Linked DNA regions of Homo sapiens: regions 1, 3 and 4 are each linked to region 2. The links come from fine-mapping of genetic effects on gene expression. A gene starts in region 2. Each other region holds a variant in brackets. All regions are shown on one strand. Distances are from middle to middle. Region 1 overlaps PCDHGA1 (protocadherin gamma subfamily A, 1). Region 2 holds the start of FCHSD1 (FCH and double SH3 domains 1). Region 3 overlaps DIAPH1 (diaphanous related formin 1). Region 4 has its middle 6.3 kb from the start of ARAP3.

The links. PIP is the estimated chance that this variant, and not a neighbour inherited with it, causes the effect.
Region 1: its variant is the best candidate, but not a certain one, in a credible set for the expression of FCHSD1 in whole blood (TOPMed, PIP 0.58).
Region 3: its variant is the best candidate, but not a certain one, in a credible set for the expression of FCHSD1 in whole blood (INTERVAL, PIP 0.51).
Region 4: its variant is the best candidate, but not a certain one, in a credible set for the expression of FCHSD1 in whole blood (INTERVAL, PIP 0.64).

What each region holds. Positions count from the first base shown.
Region 1 is chr5:141,449,600-141,455,721 of GRCh38, forward strand. All of the region lies in intron 1 of PCDHGA1 (protocadherin gamma subfamily A, 1), which reads left to right. All of the region lies in intron 1 of PCDHGA2 (protocadherin gamma subfamily A, 2), which reads left to right. The region is part of intron 1 of PCDHGA3 (protocadherin gamma subfamily A, 3); the gene reads left to right. All of the region lies in intron 1 of PCDHGB1 (protocadherin gamma subfamily B, 1), which reads left to right. It also overlaps PCDHGA4, PCDHGB2, PCDHGA5, PCDHGB3, PCDHGA6 and PCDHGA7, and 10 more genes. Among named protein-coding and RNA genes, the nearest start is that of PCDHGA12, 22 kb to the left of the region's middle. The variant C/T (reference allele first, on the strand shown) is at 3,289.
Region 2 is chr5:141,647,262-141,653,383 of GRCh38, forward strand. It overlaps FCHSD1 (FCH and double SH3 domains 1), which reads right to left and starts at 4,157. Exons shown (of 20, transcript NM_033449.3): 1 at 4,087-4,157; 2 at 3,759-3,856; 3 at 3,098-3,143; 4 at 2,626-2,693; 5 at 2,134-2,275; 6 at 1,911-2,047; 7 at 1,696-1,759; 8 at 707-835; 9 at 137-259. The coding sequence starts at 4,107. RefSeq lists an enhancer at 2,179-2,757.
Region 3 is chr5:141,591,541-141,597,662 of GRCh38, forward strand. All of the region lies in intron 1 of DIAPH1 (diaphanous related formin 1), which reads right to left. Among named protein-coding and RNA genes, the nearest start is that of DIAPH1, 24 kb to the right of the region's middle. The variant G/A (reference allele first, on the strand shown) is at 2,928.
Region 4 is chr5:141,685,504-141,691,625 of GRCh38, forward strand. No RefSeq gene overlaps it. Among named protein-coding and RNA genes, the nearest start is that of ARAP3, 6.3 kb to the left of the region's middle. The variant C/G (reference allele first, on the strand shown) is at 2,937.

The DNA of each region.
Region 1 (6,122 bases), 200 kb before region 2:
AAAAAAAAGTAAAAAAGTTTTTTAAAAAGATGTATCTATATATACATATTTACATACACACCCAAGTGTGTATGTATATATGTTTGTGTGTATGTACACAAACACATTATTTTTATATGATATGATTTTTTTATGACATGATTATTTTTATGACATTTGAGAGTAAGTTGTAGAAATTATGTTTCTTTATTCCTAAATACCTCATTGTGTATTTCCTAACAAGGACATTCTTTTATATAATTAAATTTTAATAATAAAAATCAGAAAATTTAACATCAATGCAATATAATTATTTAGCCTATAGTCCATATTTAAATTCTACCATACCTTATAGTATATTTTACTATACCTCATAGTAATTTTTTTTAGTCCAAAATATCACACATTGCATTTAGTTGCCATGTCTCTTTTTTTTTTTTTTTTTTGAGACAGGGTCTCACTCTTTCGCCCAGGCTGGAATGCAGTGGTATGATCTTGGCTCACTGCAACCTCCGCCTCCCAGGTTCAAATGATTCTCCTGCCTTAGCCTCCTGAGTAGCTGGGACTACAGGCATGTGCCACCACACTCCCACCACACCCAGCTAATTTTTGTATTTTTAGTAGAGACAAGGTTTCACTATGTTGGCCAGGCTAGTCTTGAACTCCTGACCTCAAGTGATCTGCCCACCTCAGCTAAGTGCTGGGATTACAGGCGTGAGCCACCATGTGTGGCCTAGTTGCCATGTCTCTTTAATCTACTTTAATCTGAAACAGTTCCTCAGCCTTGTTTGTTTATATGAAACTGACATTTGTAAAGACTAGAAGCCATTTGTCTTGTATAATGCCTTTAATTTATATTTGTTTTATGTTTCCTCGTGATTTTATATATAGAGTTTGTTTGTTTGTTTGTCTGTTTGTTTGTTTTGAGATGGAGTCTCATTCTTGTCACCCAGGCTGGAATGCAGTGGCGCAGTCTCGGCTCACTGCAACTTCTGCCTCCCAGGTTCAAGCAATTCTCCTGCCTCAGCCTCCTGAGTAGCTGGGATTACAGATGCCTGCCACCATGCCTGGCTAATTTTTGTACTTTTAGTAGAAACGGGGTTTTGCCATGTTGCCCAGGATGGTCTCCAACTCCTGACCTCAGGTGATCCGCCCGCCTTGGCCTCCCAAAGTGCCGGGATTACAGGCATGAGCCACCGTGCCCGGACCTCATGATTGTATTTATTTATTTATTTAATATTATTATTATTATTTTTTTTTTTTTGAGATGGGGTCTTGCTCTGTCACCCAGGCTGGTGTGCAGTGGTGCGATATCGGCTCACTGCAACCGCTGCCTCCCAGATTCAAGCAATTCTCCTACCTCAGCCTCCCAAGTAGCTGGGATTACAGGCATGTGCCACCACACCCGGCTAATTTTTTTGTATTTTTTTTAGTAGAGACGAGGTTTCACCATATTGGCCAGGCTGGTCTCGAACTCCTGACCTTGTGATCCACCCACCTTGACCTCCCAAAGTGTTGGGATTACAGGCGTGAGCCACCACACCCAGCCTTATGATTGTATTTAGACTAGACATTTTTTTGGTAGTATATTATTTAGCCATTGCTGTGTAACAAATTATCCCAAAACTTAGTGGCTTAAAAGAAGCATTTATTATCTCATAAATTTTGTGGATCAGGACTGGGTATAGCTTTGCTGAGTGCCTCTGCCTCAAAGTCTTACAAGGCAGCAATTAAAGTGTCACCTAAGGCTATTGTCTTATCTGAAGGGTCAACAGAGGATGGATCCGCTTCTAATCTCTCTCACATAGTTAATGGCAAAATTAAGTTCCTTGTGGATTGTTAGACTAAGGGTTCCAGTTCCTTGCTGGTTGTTAGCTTGAGGTCTACCTCAGTTCCTTGCCATGTGGACCTCCATAGGGCAACCAGCTTCTGTTAGAGCAAGTAAAGGAGAGTGCCAGAGAGGGCAAATGTGATGAAAGCCACAATCTTTTTATAAACCTAATTTTGAAAGTGACATACAAGGCTAGGCATGGTGGCTCAAACCTGTAATTCCAGCACTCTGAGAGGCCAAGGAGGGTGGACTGCTTGAGCCCAGGAGTTCAAGACCAGCCTGGGTAACATGACAAAACCCTGCCTCTACTAAAAATACAAAAATTAGCTGGTCTGGTGGTGCATGCCTATAGTCCCAGCTACTCAGGAGGCTGAGGCCAGAGAATTGCTTGAACCCAGGAGGCGGAGGTTACAGTGAGCCGAGATCACACCACTCCACTCCAGCCTAGGCCACAGAATGAAACCCTGTCAAGAAAGAAAGGAAGGAACAAGGGAGGGAGGGAGGAAGGAAGGGAGGTAGGGAGGCAGGGAAAGACCGAGAAAGTGACATACCATCATTTTTGCTGTAGTTTGTTCATTAGAAGCAAAATCACTTGGTCCAGCCCACACTCTGGGGAGATGATTTTCTAACTCCATTTGTAATAACTTATTCTACTTTTATTAGTTGGCATTATACAGTAAGAAAGAGCTTTCTTTTCTCTTCTTATTTATTCATATATGGCTCATGTGTTTTTTCCAATGAGTTATATTCTATTACTAACATTTTTTATTTTGACCTCAAATTGTTTTAGATGTTACCAATAAGAACCTCTTCAAGCTGGTTCTTGTGTCCTTTTGCCATAACTCTCTCATTTTCTTGAACCCTTTCTTACTTTCTGATATAAGAAAATATTAGAGACTCATACTTTCCTTGTTCCAGTTCTGAGATGAACCATTTATCCAAAAGCCTTGCTTCATTTTAGTAGGGAATAGTATTTAGAAACTAAGATCTGGGTGTGAGGTATGCTCACTGCTAATGGGCTGTCACTGTTTCTAGGCCTTGTCAGCAGACGGAGCTAGGAAAAACACACATAAACACACCCATATTTATATTTGTACACACACTCCCTCAAAATCGTGAGTTCATATTGATACCTCCAGTTCTGGTTCTTCCTAGCCTTCCCCCTTTCCATCTTTGTATTTTTATTTTCCAACAGTAAGAACCCTGGCTCCCAGTGCTATGAATATATTTACTCATTTGCTCCATCCACTGCACTCCAGCCTAGGCCACAGAATGAAACCCTGTCAAGAAAGAAAGGAAGGAATGAGGGAGGGAGGGAGAGAGGAAGAGAGAGAAGGAAGAAGGAAGGGAGGGAGGGAAAACTGAGAAAGTAACATACCATCATTTTTGCTGTAGTTTGTTCATAAGAAGCAAAATCACTTGGTCCAGCCCACACTCTGGGGAGATGATTTTCTAACTCCATTTGTAATAATTTATTC[C/T]ACTTTTATTAGTTGGCATTATACAGTAAGAAAGAGCTGCTGAAGATTTGCTTGCAATTGGTTGTCTTTAAACTGAGGGTATATTGTCAAAGTACTGTGCTGAAAAGTTACCTGTAGTATAGTTATGTGATTCATTAAAATAAAGTTTGTTTCTATTATGTGCAGTTTTAGAGTTTTGCCACACTCTGGTTGATTAGTATATTTTCTGTTGCTTTTTTGTTTTGTTTTGTTTTGTTTTGTTTTTGAGATAGGGTCTCGCTATGTCACCCAGGCTGGAGTCCAGTGGTACAATCACAGCTCACTGCAGCCTCAACCTCGTGCACTTAAGCGATCCTCCCACCTCAGCCTCCCAAATAGCTGGGGCTGCAAGTGCACACCACCATGACTGGCTAATTTTTTAATTATTTATTTATTTATTTATTTATTTTAGAGATGGGGTCTCACTATGTTTCCCCAGGCTGACCCTGAACTCCTGGGGTCAAGTGATCCTCCTGCCTTAGCCTCCAAGTGCTGGTATTACAGGCATAAGCCACCACACCTAGCCTAGTATTCTTTTTTGAATATGTAAAACATTAACATAAAGTCAAAACTATTAAAAAAAGGTGTACTCAGAAAATTGTCATTCCTCCCCTATACCTTCTGCCTCATTCACACCACACTCTGTAGATAATCGATTTCATTAGTTTGTGGTTTATCCTCACTGTGTTTCTTTTTGCAAAACGCAAAAACAAAACCTATACATATTTATATTTTCTTATGTCCTCTTCTTTCTTACACAAAAGGTAACACACTATGTAGGTAGTCCTGGCTTTGAACAGTTTCACTATAAAAATATTTGTTACTACAGCTTAAATAACATAAGTCTCCTAAAAATAATTCAAATTTTAGTTACCATGGTATATTAACTTTGAGTAGTTCCATAAAGGACAAACTTGGCTGCTAGCCCTTCAGTCCACAGAGCACTTTGAAAATAACAGATGAGCAAAATAATGTGGCCAATCACATGACTTCTTTCAAAGTATGTCAGTGATCAGTCACTGTGTGCCTATAATTTAGTTCATGCACAGACAGCAAAGCATGTAGTTGTGTTGCCTTCCAGTGATAAACCCACATAACATTTTAGAAAAATGTATTAAGAATTGGCCAGCAAAGATAAAAGTGCAGCAAAGAAACAAAAGTGATAATGTTTTCAGTGAAATTTGAATTGAACATAAATGGAGTTATAGAAGAAATAGCTGACCATGGGAATGTTCACACTGCTACTTTCAAGAATCTCTAGAAGGGCAGCTAAAGGAGCTTAGTGAAGGTGAATTTATTGACATGAATGAGAAAAGTAATTGTGATGAAAAGGATGAAGATGTCCCAGAGAAAGTAATGCCAGCAAAAACTTCACATTAAAGGAACTCTCAGATATTTCAAAGCATTGAAACCTCCAAGAATAAATAAAATGTTGGAAGTTGATCCAAACTTAGAAAGGAGTATGGCAACTTGTCAAGATGAAGAAAAGGTGCTTATTCCTTTTTATTTATTTATTTAGAGACAGAGTTTCACTCTTGTTGCCCAGGCTGGAGTGCAATGGCATGATCTCAGCTCACCGCAACCTCCACCTCCTGGATTCAGGCAGTTCTCCTGCCTCAGCCTCCCAAGTAGCTGAGATTACAGGCATGTGCCACCACGCCCGGCTAATTTTGTATTTTTAGTAGAGACAGGGTTTCTCCATGTTGGTCAGGCTGGTCTCGAACCCCCAACCTCAGGTGATCTGCCCACCTCGGCCTCCCAAAACACTGGGATTACAGGCATGAGCCACCATGCTCCACCTGCTTATTCCATATTATATGTTATAGGATGAAAAGAGGCCAAACTAATCTTGACATGTTTTTTACAAGGAAATAATCCTCCATGGTTCTAATTTTTTTTTTTTTTTTTTTTTTTTTTTTTGAGACAGAGTCGCGCTCTGTCACCCAGGCTGGAGTGCAGTGGCACGATCTTGGCTCACTGCTAGCACCGCCTCCCGGGTTCACGCCATTCTCCTGCCTCAGCCTCCCGAGTAGCTGGGACTACAGGCGCCGGCCACCACGCCTGGCTAATTTTTTAAAAAATATTTTTAGTAGAGACGGGGTTTCACCGTGTTAGCCAGGATGGTCTCGATCTCCTGACCTCGTGATCCGCCCGCCTCGGCCTCCCAAAGTGCTGGGATTACAGGCTTGAGCCACTGCGCCCGGTGGGTCTAATGTTTTAAATTACACTGTGTTAAATAAATATTAGTTTGTTGGTTTTTTTTTTAGTTTTTTTATTTCTCTACAAATTTACAACCAATAAGAGTTTTTAATGCTTTGACAAAAAATGTTAAAGGTCATAGTACAATCGCATTTCTTCCCATTGATTATTAACATCACTTTACATAGTTTCATCTTGCATTAGCAATTTTGTGTGTGTGTTTGTGGTTTTAAGGAGCGGAGAGTTTAATAGGCAAGAAGGAAGGGAGAAGACAGAAGGAAGGAGCTCCCCCTTACAGAGACAGAGGGAGCGGGGCTCCAAAAGAGGAGGTCCCCATCTACCGCGGATACCAGCCAGGTATATATGCAGAGGCTGGTGGAGGTGATGTCTGATTTGCATAGGGCTCAGGGGATTGGTTTGACCAGGCATATCATTCACGTAGCCCGAGAAAAAGCTGGCCCTCCCACCCCAGCCTTTTAATATGCAAACGTAGGGCGCCATGGATGTTCTAAACACGTGGAGATATGTGGGGGGCAGCCATGTGGCCAGGAACTTGTGGGGCAAGGGCAAGAAGGCTGTGGGAATCGCCAAGTTGAATGGACCTAGTTTCTAATGGC
Region 2 (6,122 bases):
TCACTGACTCACTCTCCAACCCTGTCCCTAGCACTTCTTGGAAGAAAAAGGACAATGTGTGAAGCAAAGAGGGCTGCATTGGGAGGGAAGGGTAAAAAGGATCCCCGGGGAAGCTCTTAGAGGCCACAGCCCTCACCTGGGAGGTTGTCTGCTCCCCGCGGTGGGCATGCTCCAGGATGACCTCTGCGGCTTCCAGCTCAGTGTGGCTCAGGGAGGTCAGGGGGTCCCTCAAGTGCTCTGACAGCTCACTGACCAGGGCCTAGAGAGAACCCCAAGATACTGACACCACCCTTCCCCCAGACCTCTACTGTAAAATAGGCTCGTTCCAGATTTGACAGGTGATGGGCATGAGGTATAGGAAGGAGAGAAGAAGACATTCTTCATGAGAAAGGCCCTCGTGTGCAGAGCACTTAGAAGTTTAAAACACGTTCACATCCATTCTCTCCTTTGAGCCCCACTAGTGCTATAAGATAGGCAGAGAAAGGGTTATCCCTGATGAGGAATCTGGGGTTCGGAAGAGTTTAAGTGTACTGTACAATGCCATGCAGCCAGCTAGGAGCAGAACCAGAGTGCATGTATGTATCATCTACTCACTCTAAACAGACAAGATCCCCTGCACCACCCACTGTCATGGGGATCAAGAAGCAGGGGGAGGTCCTCCTTTCCCTCCCTGCTGAGGGATAGGGGTGTCTGGGTTAAAACTGGCCTTGAGCAGAGCTGGCAGTTCCTCCTGGTAGTAATGGTCGAGGTGGGCATTGGTAGCCACCAAGTTAAGCAGGTACTCATTGCGGGCTGCTTGCAGCTGCTGGGAGTACTGGGCTGACTGGGCGGACAGCTAGGAGGGTAAACTGATGTCAATAGGAAGCCCTAGACCCCCAGAGTCCTTCCAAGACCAATTGAGAAGCCAGATCCAGAATGGATTCTCACATTATTGAGTGCTTACTATGTGCCTGGCACTACACTAAAAATGTTGCATACACACAACTCCTGCTCAAAATCTTCTAGTGCCTTCTGCACGCATTTAAAATAAAATCCACTGTTCCTTACCATGGTCCACCACGTTCAATATGAGCTGGCCCCCGCAATCTCTCTGACCTCTTTTCAAGCGCTTGTTCCCTTGCTCACAGTACTCCAGCCATACTGGCCCTCTCTCAGTTCCTCGAGCCTACAAAGTTATTCCCACCTCAGACCCTTTGCACTCACCATTTCTTCTCTCTGCAATGTTCTTCCCCTAGATCTTTGCAAGGCCAGCTCCTTCTTGACAGTTAGGCCACCTATTCAGAGAGGCCTCCCTCTAAATTCTACCCCCTTGTTATTCTTTATCATAGTACCTTGTTTTATTTTCATCTTAATCTAAGTATTTATTTGCTGTCTGTCTCTCTTAACCAGACTGTGAGGGCAGGAACTCCATTGGTAGTGTTCTCCACTGTATCCATAATGTCTAGAACAGTGCCTATTATATACAGATCCTCAATAAATGCATATTAAAGGACTGAAAAAGAAGGGTATTCTCTCCATTTTATAGAAGAAAATAAGGCTCACAGAGATCAAGTAAATTAACCAAGGTTACCCACCCAGGAAGTAGGAGAGCCTGGATTCAACCCAGTCTTTCATACATATGCACCTATGTTCCAAACCACTAGACTACTCTGCCTCCCTCTTCCCTGCCCCCACTCATGCCCTCATCCCTCGAACCTTGGTGCTCAGTTTCTGGAGACTGGTCCGAGAGTGGAAGATCCCATGGTCACTTCGGTTTAGCCTGTGCAGATGAGAGAAAGGAGTCAGGCCCACCCCAAGTGGGAGAATATGAGATCAGAGTCAGGCCCAGCTTTGGTGACTTGGCTCCACCCCTAGACAGCCCCACCTCCCTGTTCCCCAACCTTGGGCTTCCTCACTCTCCATGACCCCACCTGGCCTGGACATCAGCCGCCTTCTCCTGTGCCAAGGCCCACACACGTTCCCGCTGCCCATACAGCTTCCGACTTCGGCTCAGCTCCCGGACAGACTGCAGCACCTCAGCCTGCGCCCTCTGGAGGTTCTCTGTTCCCTATTGGGATGCATACACAAAGTCCTTACCTAGACCACCTTTGGTCCCAAGCCAGCTCTTCCTTCACCCCAACCTCTGAGCCATACCTTCCTAAGCACCTGCTCCTTGGCGCTCCGCCCTGTACCCCCTGCTAGGTCACGGTATCGGTCAGACGCCTGGAGTCGGGTTTGGCCCCCAGCCACGGTGGCATCCAGCAGGCAGCGCCAGGCACCGAACACTGTCCTGCCCCTCCCCAGAGAAGGTCTGTGTTGAGGAGGAGAGCACTCCACAGCTTCATGAGACCACCCCCACCCCCTGCCCCCTGACCAACACCATGGGAGACAGAGTGCTTTCCCATCCTCCCTTGTCTGGGAGCCCATCAATCGATCAGCCCATTAGCTCAGCCACAAGCCTCACTCCTGCCCTCCACCCCACCCACAGTGTCCTTGCTGGGTCAGCTCCTCTGCTGCTGCTGTGTCAGCTCTACCTACAGCTCACGTGCCTTCCCCACTTGCTAGGCCTTCATCCCCACAGGTTCCTGGGGCTGAGCTCCCCATCACTTTTTGGCCTCTGTGGCCCTCCCCCTCCATAGGGCCCACCTGCTGTCCATCTCACCGCTCCGGTGCCCTTCCCTCTTCAGGAATGGGCCAGCCAGTTTCTGGAGTGCCTGGTGAAAAAGCCATCACAGAACCAAGTTCCCTTTCAAAGACCCACCCCAACTGGCAGAATATGACATCAGAGTATAATCATACCATTCTTTGGGTACATTATGTGCCACTTGCTTTGCTAAATGCCTTATAGTCATTAATTTGTTTAATCCTTACAACAACCCTACATGAAGGTAAGGTATTATTATTATTCCCATTTCACAGAGAAAGAAACTGAGGTCAAGAAAGGTTAAGTAACTTGTCCAAGGTCACATGGCTATAATTACACAGCAGGGATCTGACACCAGTCTGCTTGACTCTAGGCATCTGCTCTTGACCACAATAGGGATAGGTATGGACAGACATTACTGGTGATATAAGAGAGGCTGGAACAAGAGGTAAGGTCCAGAGAAAAGTCCCATACCTGCCCATACTCCCGTTCAATGGCTGCCCTCTGCTTGCTGTAGGATCTGCGGAGATTGCAGGTCGGGGGTGAGGTGGGGGATAAGGTTATGTTTGGTCCTGTTCTCCCATCCTCAGTCCTCTACTCTGGGCAGGAGGGAGCGGTTGGGGGGAGCCAGGTTCCTAGAGTGTAACTACACCCAGAGGGAATGGGACTGATGGGAGTCCTTGAGATCACCTCGGGCAGCTGCAACACAGGAAACCCTCACCTTACTGCCCCGGGCCCCAGCAGGATCCTCCCCACCCCAGAGGTTCATCTGTAGGCTTAGAGGTGAAGACTGATGGGGGCCTGGGTACGATGTCTGCCAGCCTTCCAACAGGTCTGGAAGAGGGAGAGGGATTCTGCCCTAAGGTTGATTGTGGGGTTGGGGGCAGTGGTGTGGAGTCAAGGGCTTTGAGGGAGGGTTCCTGTGTGTTTATGTGGGTGGGAGGGGGTTGGGAGGGGTTAGGTGGGGGAGCATTCCTATCCAGTATCTGGAGAGGCCAGGCCTAGGGTGAGGGCTGTGGATGGGTCGGCTGGGGAGCTCTTGGCCCCTGTTCCTCCACCCCAGCACATGTATATTGGGGAGAAGTGGCGCACAACGACGAAGGTGAGTGTAAATGAAGGGGGTTGGGGGAGCTACCTGATGTCCTCCAGCAGATCCGCCTCCCTCTGCTGCCAGGTCTGAAGGATGCTCAGCTGTTCCAGGAAGCGAAGCTTCACCTCCTGGGCCGGCTTCACCTGTGGGGGCAAAGAGAGGATGAAGACCCCAGCGCAAGGACCTAAAAAACACTCCGCGCAGGGAGCGGTGAGGGGGCGGGGCCGGGGGGGTGCTGAGCTCTTTCCTCTGTTACTTCTGGTTTGGGGTCTGACCCCTTCCGACTTCCCGTCTCCTACCACAAGTCGGATGCCCCCTTAGCTCCCTCCGTTCCCCCAGCCCGCCAGGAGTCCCCATTCAGGGCCAAGCTCACTTTTCGGGGCGGCGGCTGCATCTCCGCTCCAGCAAGGCGGTCAGCCACTGGACTCCGGAACTGGAGGAAGCCCCGCCCACTATGGAGCCCCGCCCCAGGCCAGGTCAGGCCCCGCCCTCTGCCCGCCCACGACTTGTCCGGCGACGTCGCAGGGCGCGGAAGCGAGAGGGGGCCACCGAGAAACTAAACCTGTTACTGCTGCGAATACGCCGGCAGGGTCCGGGTGGCGGGGCGGGCGGGGCGGACGCAGCGTCCGCTGGGCGGTGGGAAGAACCCCAGGCATCTGAGTCAAGACGCCTAAGTTCTATTTGTAGTGTAACCACTGATTCAGCCTGTAATTATTGATAATTATTCATTTGCATATGTAGATCCCCAGTCCCCGAGCTAATGATGAGGAATGGAGAGGAATTCAGTGTGTGACCAGGGAAACTGAGTCACTGGGCACCTGAGCAAAGATGCATCTGACGAAGAGAGGGCTGGTCCCAGACCTTTTCCTAATTCCCGCTTAACTGGAAAAGCCAGCGTGAGCGGGGTGAGAAAGATGCCTGGATCCAGGAAGGAACCAGGCCCAAAGGGAAAAAGACTTGGCCCCACTGAAAACTAAACGATACCAGTGAGTCGGCGAGAGCTGGGAGATGCGCAGGAAGCCCCTGCCACCTTTAGGATCTTCCAGCCCTAGCACTGCTTCCTGAGGAGCCTCTCCCCAATTCCTCATCCTCCTCACCTAAGCTTCTTTGGCTCAGGCACCTGTCCCAGTACCCCTGACATGTCTCAAAACTCCAGATTCACATTCCAACTCCCCACTGACACCTCTGCTAGTATATCTAATAGGAACCTCAACTTTTAAAGCTTTTAAACCTCCTTCAACCTGATCCTCCCCCCGTAACGTTTTAAATGGCACCGCATTTCCTCCAGTCAGTTAAGTCAGAAACCCAGAGTCAATGTGCCTTCTCCTACCCCTACATTCTATCCATCAGTAAGTCCTACAGGTTCTATTTCAAACAACAATAAACAAACAAAAACCTCTTGATCCACTTCCCTCAATTTCCAAGACCACCATCCTAGTCCAAGCCCCCATTATTAGACTTCTGGTCTAATATCTGATCTCCTTGCTTCCACACTGCCCTCACCCCAACCCACTGTTCACACAGCACTCAGAGTGATCAACCTTTTTTTTCTTTTTTAAAGGGAAATAAGATCTCATAATTTACTTGCTTAAAATGCACTTGCTTCAGAATAAAATCCAAATAGAATCCATGGCCTTCAAGGCTACGCATGGAAGACCCTGCTGGTCTTTCTTACTTCAGCCTGTACTCTCCTCCCACTGTCTGCTCACTGTGCTCCAGCCTCTTTGCTGTTCCCTCAGTAGACCAAGTCCCTTCCAATGCAGAGTTCTTCATGCCTGCTTTCTTTCTCCAGAATCTCCTCCTTCCAGCGTTCCATCTGTCGCCTCCAACAGCTTCTTTCCCTTACTTTGCAACTCTTCACAGATGCCTTCCCCATCCACCCATCCAAAGACCATCTCCACAATCACTCTTTTTTTTTTGAGATGGAGTCTTGCTCTGTTGCCAGGCTGGAGTGCAATGGTGCAATCTCGGCTCACTGCAACCTCCACCTACCAGGTTCAAGTGATTCTTCTGCTTCAGCCTCCCGAGTAGCTGGGATTACAAGCACGTGCCACCACAACCAGCTAATTTTGTATTTTTAGTAGAGACAGGGTTTCACCATCTTTGCCAGGATGGTCTCAAACTCCTGACCTCAGGTAATCCATCCCCCTCAGCCTCCCAAAGTGCTGGGATTACAGGTGTGAGCCACTGCGCCTGGCCTCCACAATCACTCTTCAAGCTCATCACTTTGGTTCAGTTTCTTCACAGCACTAAACTCACTTGTTCAAGTACTGGTTTATGTGTTTATTTGCTATTTTCTGTTCCCCTCCACAACGGAGGATTCATAAGAGCAGGGGCCCTGTTTGTTTTGTTCATGCTATATCCCCAGACCTGGCACCAATTAGGTGCACAATACATATTTGTTGAATG
Region 3 (6,122 bases), 56 kb before region 2:
GGTCATATGATTAGGGGATGAGTTGGATACAGAACTCAGGCATCCAGACTCCAAAGCTGCCAAATCTTTGCATTCCCCAAATTCTTGTGCCTTTTTCCTATTCAATATCCACTAACTCTCGCCTTTAGATGGAAAAGGAAGGAAGGGAGATGGGGATATATATATATATATATATATATATATATATGAAGGAAGATGCCAGTTTCCCTTGCTTTCCTAGGGCATCATCAGAAACAGATTTTATCTTAAAAAAAAATTATCTGCCAGGCACAGTGCCTCACGCCTGTAATCCCAGCACTTTGGGAGGCCGAGTCGGGTGGATCACGAGATCAGGAGTTTGAGACCAGCCTGACCAACATGGTGAAACCCCATCACTACTAAAAATACAAAAATTAGACGGGTGTGGTGGCGCCTGCCTGTAATCCTAGCTACTCAGGAGGCCGAGGCAGGAGAATCACTTGAACCCGGGAGGCGGAGGTTGCAGTGAGCCGAGATCGCACCACTGCACTCCAGTCTGGGTGACAGAGCGAGACTCTGTATCAAAAAAAAAAAAAAAGAAAGAAAGAAAATTTAAAAAAAATTACCCATGTTTTAGTGTTCAATTTGGGGAAGGACAGCAAACATGATCCACGAGGGAAAAAAAGCTGCATTTCCTGAGCTAGTCCAACAGAGGGCAGCAACAACCAGCAAAGTGAATCACAGCCCAGTCAGTACAAGCAAAACGGTTTTAGAATCCAATACAACACTCAAACAGCAAGCTCAATTATTAAAATAGAAACCTGCTGCTACAGTATATTCAGAGTGTATTGTTTACTTAGTTAATACTATGTGTGTTCTTACAGATTCTATGTTGGCAAACAGCTTTGTTCAGTAGTCATTTTTTAATTGTATCATTAGTTGTGTGTATTCTCTGAAATATAGAATAAGTTCCTAGATCATGACAAGTTAACAACAACAACAACAACAACAACAACAACAACAAAAACACAGGAGTCCAGGGAGATAAATGCTACTGGAGCTTTATTTATGTATTAGGTCTCAGATATCCAAGATTCTTAAAATTAAGTCTCTAATCATCCTACCTACATCTAAATGCATCCACTTTCATCATTCTCCTTGTTTGCTGTCAATTCTCTTCTGGTCCCAAACCAAACCCTTACTGTCCTAGGCTGGCTGTGGTAAATATCTCACTTCCTGGCCCTTCTATTGAGTCCTCCACTAAACATTAGCACTTATACCTTTAACTACAAATATAGATACTGAAGGAAGCATAAATACAGAATGAATTTTTTTAAAATATCCAAATCTGGCTTAGGAATCCAGATTAATAGGAACTTTCAGGTAAAAGATGTCAGACTGAACCAAAACATCTAATTTCTCTCCTTCTTGAAACCTCACTAAACCTACAGAAAAGGTGTTTTTTAGAAAGTAAGAAGTGATGCAAGGAAAGAGCCTACAAGGTTGGGAAGAACAAAAGAGCAACTGCAAATTTTGAAGACTGGGACTAGAAGAACTAGAGGTATTAAATCCAACACATTACAGAAAGCTGAGTCCTAAACCGGAAAGAGCAATAACCAACCCATTACACTTTAAGGATCCTCAAAAGGCTTAGGAATAATTGGCACCAGATACCTATGGAAATGGGAGTTAAAGGAGGGGGAGGCTAAAAATAAGACTGGTTGGAAGCTGTTTAAGAAGCAGTTAGATCCCTAGATCATACCCCACCCCTCAACCATGCCATTGGGAAACTACCCTCCCTTCTTCCAGCAGAGGTCTGGAAGTTTGTTCTCAGAAGAGGGTAAAACGGAGGGTCTCTGGATTGGAGGATGCCAGGGTCCCTATACTAAAAAGAAAAGTAAACCTAGGCATAGTATATACTGAGACACTCAGCACTTTTCCCCCTCTAGTCTCTTAGAGCCCCAGCAGCCTGGCCTTTCCCCTTGAGACAGAAGGTTGGAAGTGTCTTCTCTGGGGAATCAACTTAAAGCTTGTGACATAGTCCAAGTAGATCACTTCAGAGCTCCATTGTCCAACATGTACCACTAGGCACATATAATTGTACAGCACTACTAAGGTGGCTAGTGTAAGTGAGGAGGAATTTATTACATTTTATTTAACAAAATTTAAATGGCAAATAAACTTACGAAAGAAGCTCAACATCATATGTCATCAGGTAAGTGTAAATTAAAATAAGATACCACTACATACCTACTAGAATAGCCAAAATCCACAACACGGATGATGCCAAATGCTTGCAAAGATGTGGAGCAAGAACTTTCTTTTCTTTTTTTCTTTTTGAGATGGAGTCTTGCTCTGTCACCAAGGCTGGAGTGCAGTGGCATGATCTCAGCTCACTGCAACCTTCTTCCAGGTTCAAGCCTCCCGAGTAGCTGGGATTACAGGCGCATGCCACCACACGTGGCTAATTTTTGTATTTTTAGTATGGGGTTTCACCATGTTGGCCAGGCTGGTCTGGAACTCCTGACCTCAAGCGATCTGCCCACCTCGGCCTCCCAAAGTGCTGGGATTTATAGGCGTGAGCCACCGCACCCAGCCGAGCAAGAACTTTCAATTCATGGCTGGTGGGAATGTAAAATGGTACAACCACTTTCGAAGAGTTTCACAGTTTCTTATAAAACTAAACATACACTAACATAAGATCCAGCAATCATGCTCCTTGGTATTTATTTATCCAAAGGAAGTGAAAACGTATGTCCACACCAAAAACCTGCAGAGAAATGTTTACAGCAGCTTTATTCATAATTGCCAAAACTTGAAAGCAACAAAGACATCCTTTAGTAGGTGAACAGGTAACTAAACCATGGCACATTCAGACAACAGAACATTATCTGTTGTCTTAGTGCTAATCTTAAGGGCATACTGCTAAAAGAAAGAAGCTGAACTGAAAAGGCTACATATGGCCGGGC[G/A]CGGTAGCTCACACCTGTAAACATGGCACTCTGGGAGGCTGAGACGGGTGGGTTACTTGAGACCAGGAGGTTGAGGCCAGACTGGCCAACATGGTGAAAACACCGCCTCTACTAAAAATACAAAAATTAGCTCAGCATGGTGGTGGGTGCCTGTAATCCCAGCTACTTGGGAGGCTGAGGTATGAGAATCGCTTGAACCTGGGAGGCAGAGGTTGCAGTGAGCCAAGATCGAGCCACTGCACTCCAGCCTGGGTGACGGAGCAAGACCCAGTCTCAAAAAAAGGAAAAGGCGGCCAGGTGCGGTGGCTCATGCCTGTAATCCCAGCACTTTGGGAGGCTGAGGCAGGTGGATTCCCTGAGGTCAGGAGTTTGAGACCAGCCTGGCCAACGTTGTGAAATCTCTTCTCTAATAACAATACAAAAATTAGCTGGGCATGGTGGCGGGTGCCTGTAATCCCAGCTACTTGGGAGGCTGAGGCAGGAGAATCACTTGAAACCGGGAAGCAGAGGTTGCTGTGAGCCGAGATCACGCCATTGCACTCCAGCCTGGGCGACAAGAGCGAAACTCCATCTCAAAAAAAAAAAAAAAGAAAGAAAAAAGGAAAAGGCTACATATTATATGTACCCAACTATATGACATTCTAGAAAAGGCAAAACTATGGAAAAAGTAAAGAGAACTGTGGTTGCCAAGGGTTGGGGGAGGCAGGTAGGGTAGGCAGGTTATGAATAAATAGAGCACAGAGGGTTTTTAGGGCAGTGAAAAATACTCTGTATGATACTATAGTGATGGATATATGTCATTCATGGATTGTACAACACTAAGAGTGAACCCTAATGTAAACTATGGACTGGGTGATGCTGATGTGTTAATGCAGGCTCACCAATTGCAACAAATGTACCACGCTAGTGGGGGATGTTGACAATGGGGGAGGCCATGCGATATGGTTTGGCTCTGTGTCCCCACCCAAATCTCACCTTGAAATGTAATCCCCATAATCCCCATATGTCAAGGGCGGGACCAGGTGGAGGTAATAGGATCATGGGGACAGTCTCCCCTATGCTGTTCTCATGATATCAAGTGAGTCTCATGAAATCTTATGGTTTTGTAAGCATCTGGCATTTCCCCCGCTTGCACTCACTCTGTCCTGCCACCCTTAGAAGGCAAAGCAGAAGGTGCCTGCTTCTCCTTTGCCTTCCATCATGATTGTAAGTTTCCTGAGGCCTTCCCAGCAATGCAGAACTGTGAGTCAATTAAACCTCTTTCCTTTATAAATTACCCAGTCTCAGGTATTTCTTCATAGCAGTGTGAGAACGGATTGATACACCATGCACGTGTGTGGGCAGCGATATATTGGAAATCTCTATACCTTCATCTCAATTTTGCTGTGACCCTAAAACTGCTCTTCAAAAAAAAGGCTTAAAAAAATTTTTAGGGACTGGCTGTGGTGGCTCACATCTGTAATCCCGGCACTTTGGGAGGCTGAGGCAGGTAGATGGCTTGGGCCCAGGAGTTGGAGACCAGCCTGGGCAACATGGCAAAACCTGCCTCTACAAAAATATTTAAAAATCAGCCAGGCATGGGCCAGCCGCGGTGGCTCACGCCTGTAATCCCAGCACTTTGGGAGGCTGAGGCAGGTGGATTGCGAGGTCAGGAGATCGAGACCATCCTGGCTAACACAGTGAAACTCGTCTCTACTAAAAAATAAATACAAAAAATTAGCCGGGCGTGGTGGCACGCGTCTGTAGTGCCAGCTACTCGGGAGGCTGAGGCAGGAGAATCACTTGAACCCGGGAGGCAGAGGTTGCAGTGAGCCGAGATCGCACCACTGCACTCCAGCCTGGGTGACAGAGCAAGACTCTGTCTCAAAAAAAAAAAGTAATAATAATTAGCCAGGCATTGTAGCGCTTGCCTGTAGTCCCACCTACTCAGGAGGCTGAGGTGGGAGGATCAGCTGAGCCCCCAGAGGTTGCAGCAAGCTGAGATCACATTGCTGACAACAGAGCAAGACAATCTCAAAATAAATAAATAAATAAATAAATAAAAATTTAGCGTCTCAGTTGAGATGTCTGTAAATGTAAAATAAACACTGCAATTCATAACAATATAAAAAAGTAAAATATTTCATTAATAATTTTTATATTTCATTCATATTGAAGTAATATTTTAGATATATTAATTTCACGTTTCTAAAACTAGAAAATCTAAACTTACAATGTGATTCACATTAGATTTCTATTGGATGGTGCTGTCCTACAGCAAAGCAACCAGCTTTCAAATCCTACCCACGCACCTAGAGTTTCCAATCTGCTTTGTAATCCCTCATTCTTAAACATGAGTAGACAACCCAGGATTATCAGACATCTGAGGAAAGATCCTAACATGAGAGAAAGCGGGGCTGGGGGAAGCAACTTGCCAAATAAACAGTATGCAACAAGAAGAAAGATGTTCTAAAAATCATTAATATCCACAACAAACATTCAGAGGAAAAAGAGGTCATTAGAAGTTTAAAATACAAGAACAGAAATGAAAACTCAATAAAAGGACTGGAAGAATTAAGGAAATTCCCCAAAAAGTACAGCAAAAAGATAAGAAAATTAGAAGACCAGTTTGGGAGGACCAATATCCAAATAATAGGAGAAAACATAAAATAGAGAGCAAGTTATCAAGGAAATAAAGAAAATTTCCCAGTATTGAAGGATAAGTCTCTAGCACAAAGGACAAAAATAGATTATTCAAAGGCATATAATGGTGAAATTTCAAAACACCGGAATACAAAGAAAATCCTACAAAATTCCACAGAAAGGATGAAAACAGGTCATATACAAAGGAATCAGAGCAGTTCTGGGTTTCTTAACAATAATATCAACAGCTGGGTGGCAATGGAACAAGGCCTTTAAAAATCTGAAGAAAAATAATTTCCAAACTACAAATCTATACCCAACAAAAACTATCAATCAAATGTCAGCTTAGAATAGACATTTTCAGACATTTAAGCTTTAAAAAATCTGTTCCCATATACCGCAGGAAGCTACTGTAGGACATGCTCCACCAAAATGAGGATGCAAACCAAAAAAGTGCAAGACTTGAAATACAGGAAATGAAACCTAACACATGAGGAAATTGAAGGAAATCCCGGGGATAAAGGTTCCAGGATGACTGTATGTGCCAGGTACAGAGAACCACCAGCTAAAAGG
Region 4 (6,122 bases), 38 kb after region 2:
CAAAACAAAACACCACCACCAACAACAACAAAAACTAAAACAAAAGGTCAACAAAAAAACAGTCTCTAAAATAAAGCCCTGATGCCACCTCTACCAGCTGTGACCTGAGCAGATTATTCATCTCTATTTTGCCCTGTGTGCCTCAGTTTCCTTTTCTGAAAAAAGGAGAGAGAATAGTGCCTGACAGGGTTGTAAAGATTAATCTATGGAAATATATGGGTAATATGTGGAAAGGACCTGACATTCAATGAGTGCTCAAAGTGTTTCCTGTTCCTTGTTCCTATTTTTGCCAGTTACTTCCATGATAACTCTGGTATGCACCCAGCTTGCCTGTTTCTTCATCACTCTGGCATATCCCGTTACCTATTTTAATCAATCAGCCTGTGGCATCCTATTGCCAAATTAGACCACATTGTACCCCTTGTATTTTCCCCAGGGTCCCCAGTTGTCATCTTGTCTGTTCCATCACTTTTGTAACTCAATTTCCTGTCACCCCTGCAACTCCTGATCGCCTCCATGGTCTCCAGTGGCCTCCAGGTCACACTCCTTTCCTGCCCTTACCCTCTGGATGGTAAAAGGCACAGCCATCACCCACATTTGGTCCTGATGAGATGGGACAGGGCCTAGGGGGATGCCAAGGTGCAAGTTTCTTTTTATTTATTTATTTTTTTGAGACAGAGTCTCCCTCTGTCGCCCAGGTTGGAGTGGAGTGGTGCGATCTCGTATGACTGTAGACTCCGCCTCCCAGATTCAAGCGATTCTCCTGCCTCAGCCTCCCTAGTAGCTGGGATTACAGGCGCCCACCACCACATCCGGCTAATTTTTGTGGTTTTTTTTAGTAGAGACGCAGTTTCACCATGTTGGCGGGGCTGGTCTTGAACTCCTGACCTCAGGTGATCCGCCTGCCTTGGCCTCCCAAAGTGCTGGGATTACAGGCGTGAGCCACTGCGCCCGGCCGAGCATGTTTCTTACAGGAAGGAAGACTCCCATTCAATCCTTTCATTTATTTCTCATGTTTTTATTAATCATCTTTTCTGGACCAACCACTGCTCAAGGGTTTAGAGATGCAATGACGTGCTCAGCAGACTTTAGGGAACATGACCTGCTCAAGAAGTGAGACATTTATCAAACAACCCCCAAATAAATGTGTAATTACAAACCAAGATGAATTTTCTGAAGGGAAGCACTGTAAGAGCATATAACAGAGGCAGCTGACCTGGCCTGGGGGTCTGGGAGGCTTCTGCAGGGAGCTCTGCTTAAGTTGAGATCTCAGAAAGATGGGTAGGAGTTAAGCGGGATGGGAGGGAGTGTTCTAGGCAGAAGAACCACGAGTGCAAAGGCCCTGAGGTAGGAGTCAGCCTGGTGAGGAAGGGAGACAGATCAAAGAGACAGGGAGTTTGGGACCAGCTGAGACTGAAAGGATCTCAGGGGCCAGGCCATGCAGGCCCTTGGAGGGCTTGTATGAGATTTGGTCTCCATGCCAGGAGCCATGGGGAGCCAGGGAAGAGTTTAAGCATGGGGCAATAGACTCATGAATTTAGGTTTGAATTTTAGGAAGATGGCTGCATGGAGACTGGTTAGGGTCAGCACAGCCCTCCCTACCCCTAATTCCTCTGGCCTGAGGGCTGTGCCATTTCCCCCTAGACTCCAGAGCTACCCTCCAGGGAGCCCCTTCCCACTTCCCTCCTCACATTTTTGTGAGGATGAAGTCATCATTGAGGAGAGGAGGGAGTTCCAGGCCTCTACGCCTTCTTTATCCTGGAGAACTGGGGCAGCCCTGGGGTCAGGGGGAGGGAAGGAACAAACACAGAACACCTCCCTTCCCCTGCATCCTCATTCCCATGACTGGGCCCTGTCTCCTTCCACCCTAGGCTATTGACATGAGCTGTATTTACAAGATTTTTAATGCAATTTTACTGCAAAATGTTTTATAAAGGGTATCTAGTACTACAGCTAGTACTAACTCCCCTTAGGGCTTGGGGCAAGTCATCTCTCTTTGGGTCTCAGTTTCTCTATACATAAAATTAATGGCAGTGCTGTTTGATAGAATTTCCTGCAATGATGGACCGTGTTCTCTATTTGTGCTGTCCAGTATGGCAGCCGGTAGCCACATGTGGCCATTGAGAGGTTGAAATGAGGTTGGTGAGCCAGAAGAGCTGAATATTTAATTTAATTTAATTGTAATTAATTTAAATTTAAACAACCACTGGCTGCCAATATTGGACAGCACAGGCAAATCTTAAACTTTTTTGAGACTCTGGTGACAGTTATGGATCTCTCCCTAGAAAAACACCCTGCACCCAACTCTCAAAGACGAGGGCCCTTCCAATCCTATTTATGCATCCCAGGCAAAGCAGACTGTAGACTGCTGGGGCTCAGGTCCCTCATCTCCTCTTCCCTTCCTGCTGCCTTGAAAATGCTGAAATAGGGCTTTGCCTAGAGGCAGGAGAATGACAAGGATGACTCCAGGAATTAGCAGACCTTTGTTTAAAGCTTCTGGTGCACCACTGCACACATCTAAAGAAAGACAGAAGAGTGAAAGCAGGGGTAGGTGCAAGGAGAGTATTAGGGATATTTGGACATGCTCAGTCTCTGCCCTACCTCCCTGCAAACCACCAAATTGCTGCTGGGCCAGTCCTTTTTTGGACACAAAACTCCATCGGAGTGTGAGGCTGTACTCCAGATATGGGGTTGTGCCCTGGGCATGCAGTATTTATGAACTGGGGCTTTGGGAGTGACCAGAGGGGGTGGGGGGGGGGGCTATCTTAGTCCATTTGCATTGCTGTAACAAAATACCGGATACTGGGTTATTTATTTATTTATTTTTTATTTATTTACTTTTTGAGACAGTCTCACTCTGTCGTCCAGGCCGGAGTGCAGTGGCACTATCTGAGTTCATTGCAACCTCCGCTTCCCAGGTTCAAGTGATTTTCCTG[C/G]CTCAGCCTCCCAAGTAGTTGGGATTATAGGCATGTGCCACCATGTTTTGCTAATTTTGTGTTTTTAGTAAGGACGGGGTTTCACCATGTTGGCCAGGCTGGCCTCGAACTCGTGACCTCCGCCAAAGTGCTGGGATTACAGGTGTGAGCCACCGTGCCCAGCCAACCGTTTACTCACTCTTGATGTTTTCACTGTCCAGAGCATCTGTGGGTCAGACACTGCCCCCACCCAGGAATATGGAGCCCTGAAGGTGTCAGGAGAATGCACTCCCTGCCTTGCATGGATGCAGTTGTCTACTCCTTGGGAGAAAGATAATATTTTTCTCCCTTCTCACTTCTAGGATCTAATCACTCTCTCCCAGAAAACTCACTGCACAGACCCATTTACAGGGGGCAGTTTTCACTGGGACTTAACTTCCTACCCTCTGATCTCCCCACTCGATTTCTTGACCATGCCTGCCCCTCCCTCATTGCTCAGATGTCCATCTATACTTTCTCTCCCATCTGGAAAGTAGTTGCTTGGTTCCTGTCCCCCGGGGTCTCCATTTCTTTGGCTTCAGCAGAGATGCTGGACTGGTTAAACTCAGGCTCCAGTGGTGACCACAGTGTGGGACACAGACGGGGAAACAGCTTTCAGGAATCCCTTTGTCTTAGGTCTTTGAGAAGCAGAGCCTGTGGTCAGGATTCAGGTGGAAGCCCTGAGCTGAGGGAGAGGAAATGGAGGATGCAAGGTGAGACAGTGCGGTGCCTTCCTGTCCTGCCCTGCTTCACACAAGCCCCTCAGAGACACTGCTGGCTACTCAGCAGGGGTGCTCTCTCTCGGCACGTGGGTGGGACTTCTCCAGAAGGTAAGGAGGAAATCCACCTTGGAGCAGTCCTCAGCTCCCACCCATGACCTGTCTCCCATGGGTCAAGGTTCACCCCACAGAGTCACCTTCCCATGCTTCTGGGTTCTGTTACCCAGCCCTTGGTGGCACTTGGAAACCAGGTTCCACACTGTACAGTGTGGCATTTTATCTAAGTCTGAAAGTAGAGGAGGAGGTAGTGAAGGAATTTGAGAAGAAAGGTTCATGTCTCAGGGCAGCCCATTTCTCATGCCACTGAGATCCACTCAAGTCCTCCCATTATACCTGACTTCTATGCCACCCTACAGGGCATTTTCCCCCACAGGGACAAAGTTGCCCTCACTCTTTCCTCATGAGGGAAAGTACAGTCCACTGGAATCAAGTCCCCTTCCAGAAAATGCCAGATGTGGTCTTAAGGAAGATAAAGAGGAGAGGGCTAATGAAGCAAGCTACAGTCCCACTGCTGTAGCGTGTCTTGAGTCCATAATTGATATTCTCTCCCTCCTTCCGTGACCCTCCGCTAGCCCTCTGCAGATCTGGGCTACTTGCCTGATGAGATTATACAGACGTTCATCCCCAAGAGATCTGATGCCTTTGTTGCCCTGTCCTTTTAGAATTGTTGTTGAAGTTGTCCATTGGCAATTACTACCGGGTGGGAAGTTCCAAGAGATGCCACAGCGAATCCCCTGGCTGGGGCCAGACTCCCCGCCTTCATTGCATCTATGCACATTGTATCTACAGCCCTGGTTCCTCATGGCCATCAGGATCAATGGCCCTGGCCAGCACATTAATGCCCTTCTTTGTCTATTAGCCCACTAGAATGAGGAGCATAAGGTGGCCACGTGGCTGTCACAGCTTCCAGTTTAGTGGAAACTACTGTGTTCTTTCATATAAGTTCTCCCTTCCTGGCAACTAGAAACTCGAATTGGCAGAGCCACCAGTTTTGGGGACAGAAAGCAAATATTCTACAAATGTGAATGAGATGGGCCACGTCCACTTCCACATTTGACTCCAGGACTGGCAATTTCTATGTATAAGGAACATAGTACTGGTCAAAACAAATACCGCATCAAGGAGTTGAGGGCCCCAACCCACAGGTGTCATGTTCCTGCCAGTGTCTTCACTGAGCATTCAACAGGCTGTCCCCTTGTCCCATCAGGCTGGCAGCTTCTAGGTGATGAGGAGCAACCAAGCGAGCCCAATGACTCTGTTGATCGGCATCCCATACACCATATACAAAGATGAACTCAAAAATGGATCAAAGACCTAAATGTAAGAGCAGAAACTATAGAAGTCCTTGATGACCACATTATTGTACTTTTTTGGTAAAAACACTGTGGAAGACAAGCCTGAATCTGGAGCATGCACTGTTGCCAGTAAGAACGAATTACTGTCCCCTCCAGAGTAGAAAGAATAGGGTCAGTGTAACTGATCTGCAGCCAGAGGCTTGGCTGGTCTTCTGAGGAAGAGAGCCTTCTGAGGGAGGGCCCAGCACTGGTCTTGGCTGCAGGCAGGTTGAGTGATCAAAGTGGTAGAACTAGCTCATCCTTGGTGAGAGGGAGCCCATGCTGTTGGGCTCATACATAGCCTCCATCTCTGGTAGCATGACTACTCTGTTCAAGGGCTTTTGAGCAGGCATTCAGGGTAGACAGGGAGAGAGATTCACTCACCAGGCGAATCATTGTATCTCTGTGGAGCGTGTCCTGGCAAAAGATGCTCTGCTGGTTGTTTACCTGAGACCCAGAGGTTTGCACACTTGGTGCTCACTCTCAGTCCACCCATCTACCTCTTTCCTAGACCACTTTGTCACTTGCCTTTGGCTTTTGTTCCTTTGGGCTCCTGACTAGGGGACATTCACTATTCCACAGGAGCCAGGGAATTTGCACACTTGGTGCTCACTCTCAGTCCACCCATCTACCTCTTTCCTAGACCACTTTGTCACTTGCCTTTGGCTTTTGTTCCTTCGGGTTCCTGACTAGGGGACATTCACTATTCCACAGGAGCCAGGGAATATCCACAACTCAGGCTATTTGTTCGTTTAGAGAAAGCTAACGCCCAAGTGTACTGCTCAAAGCTTTGCACCCTGGAACCTCCCTTCCCCACTGTCCTTTAGGGCTACGCCAAGACGGCCATAATGTGGCAGCAATCCATTTCTAACTCTCACCAACATATCACACTGACCATCTGTGAACCAGGGCTGAGTCCCTTCCTCATCTAGCATTTGACCACAGGGAATTTGAGAAGGTTCTACAAAGTTTGTGACCCAATATGGCCCTTTCACTCCTATCTGCCTATGACTTCCTCTTTATTCCTGACTCATTGGGAAGTGGCCCCTCACCTC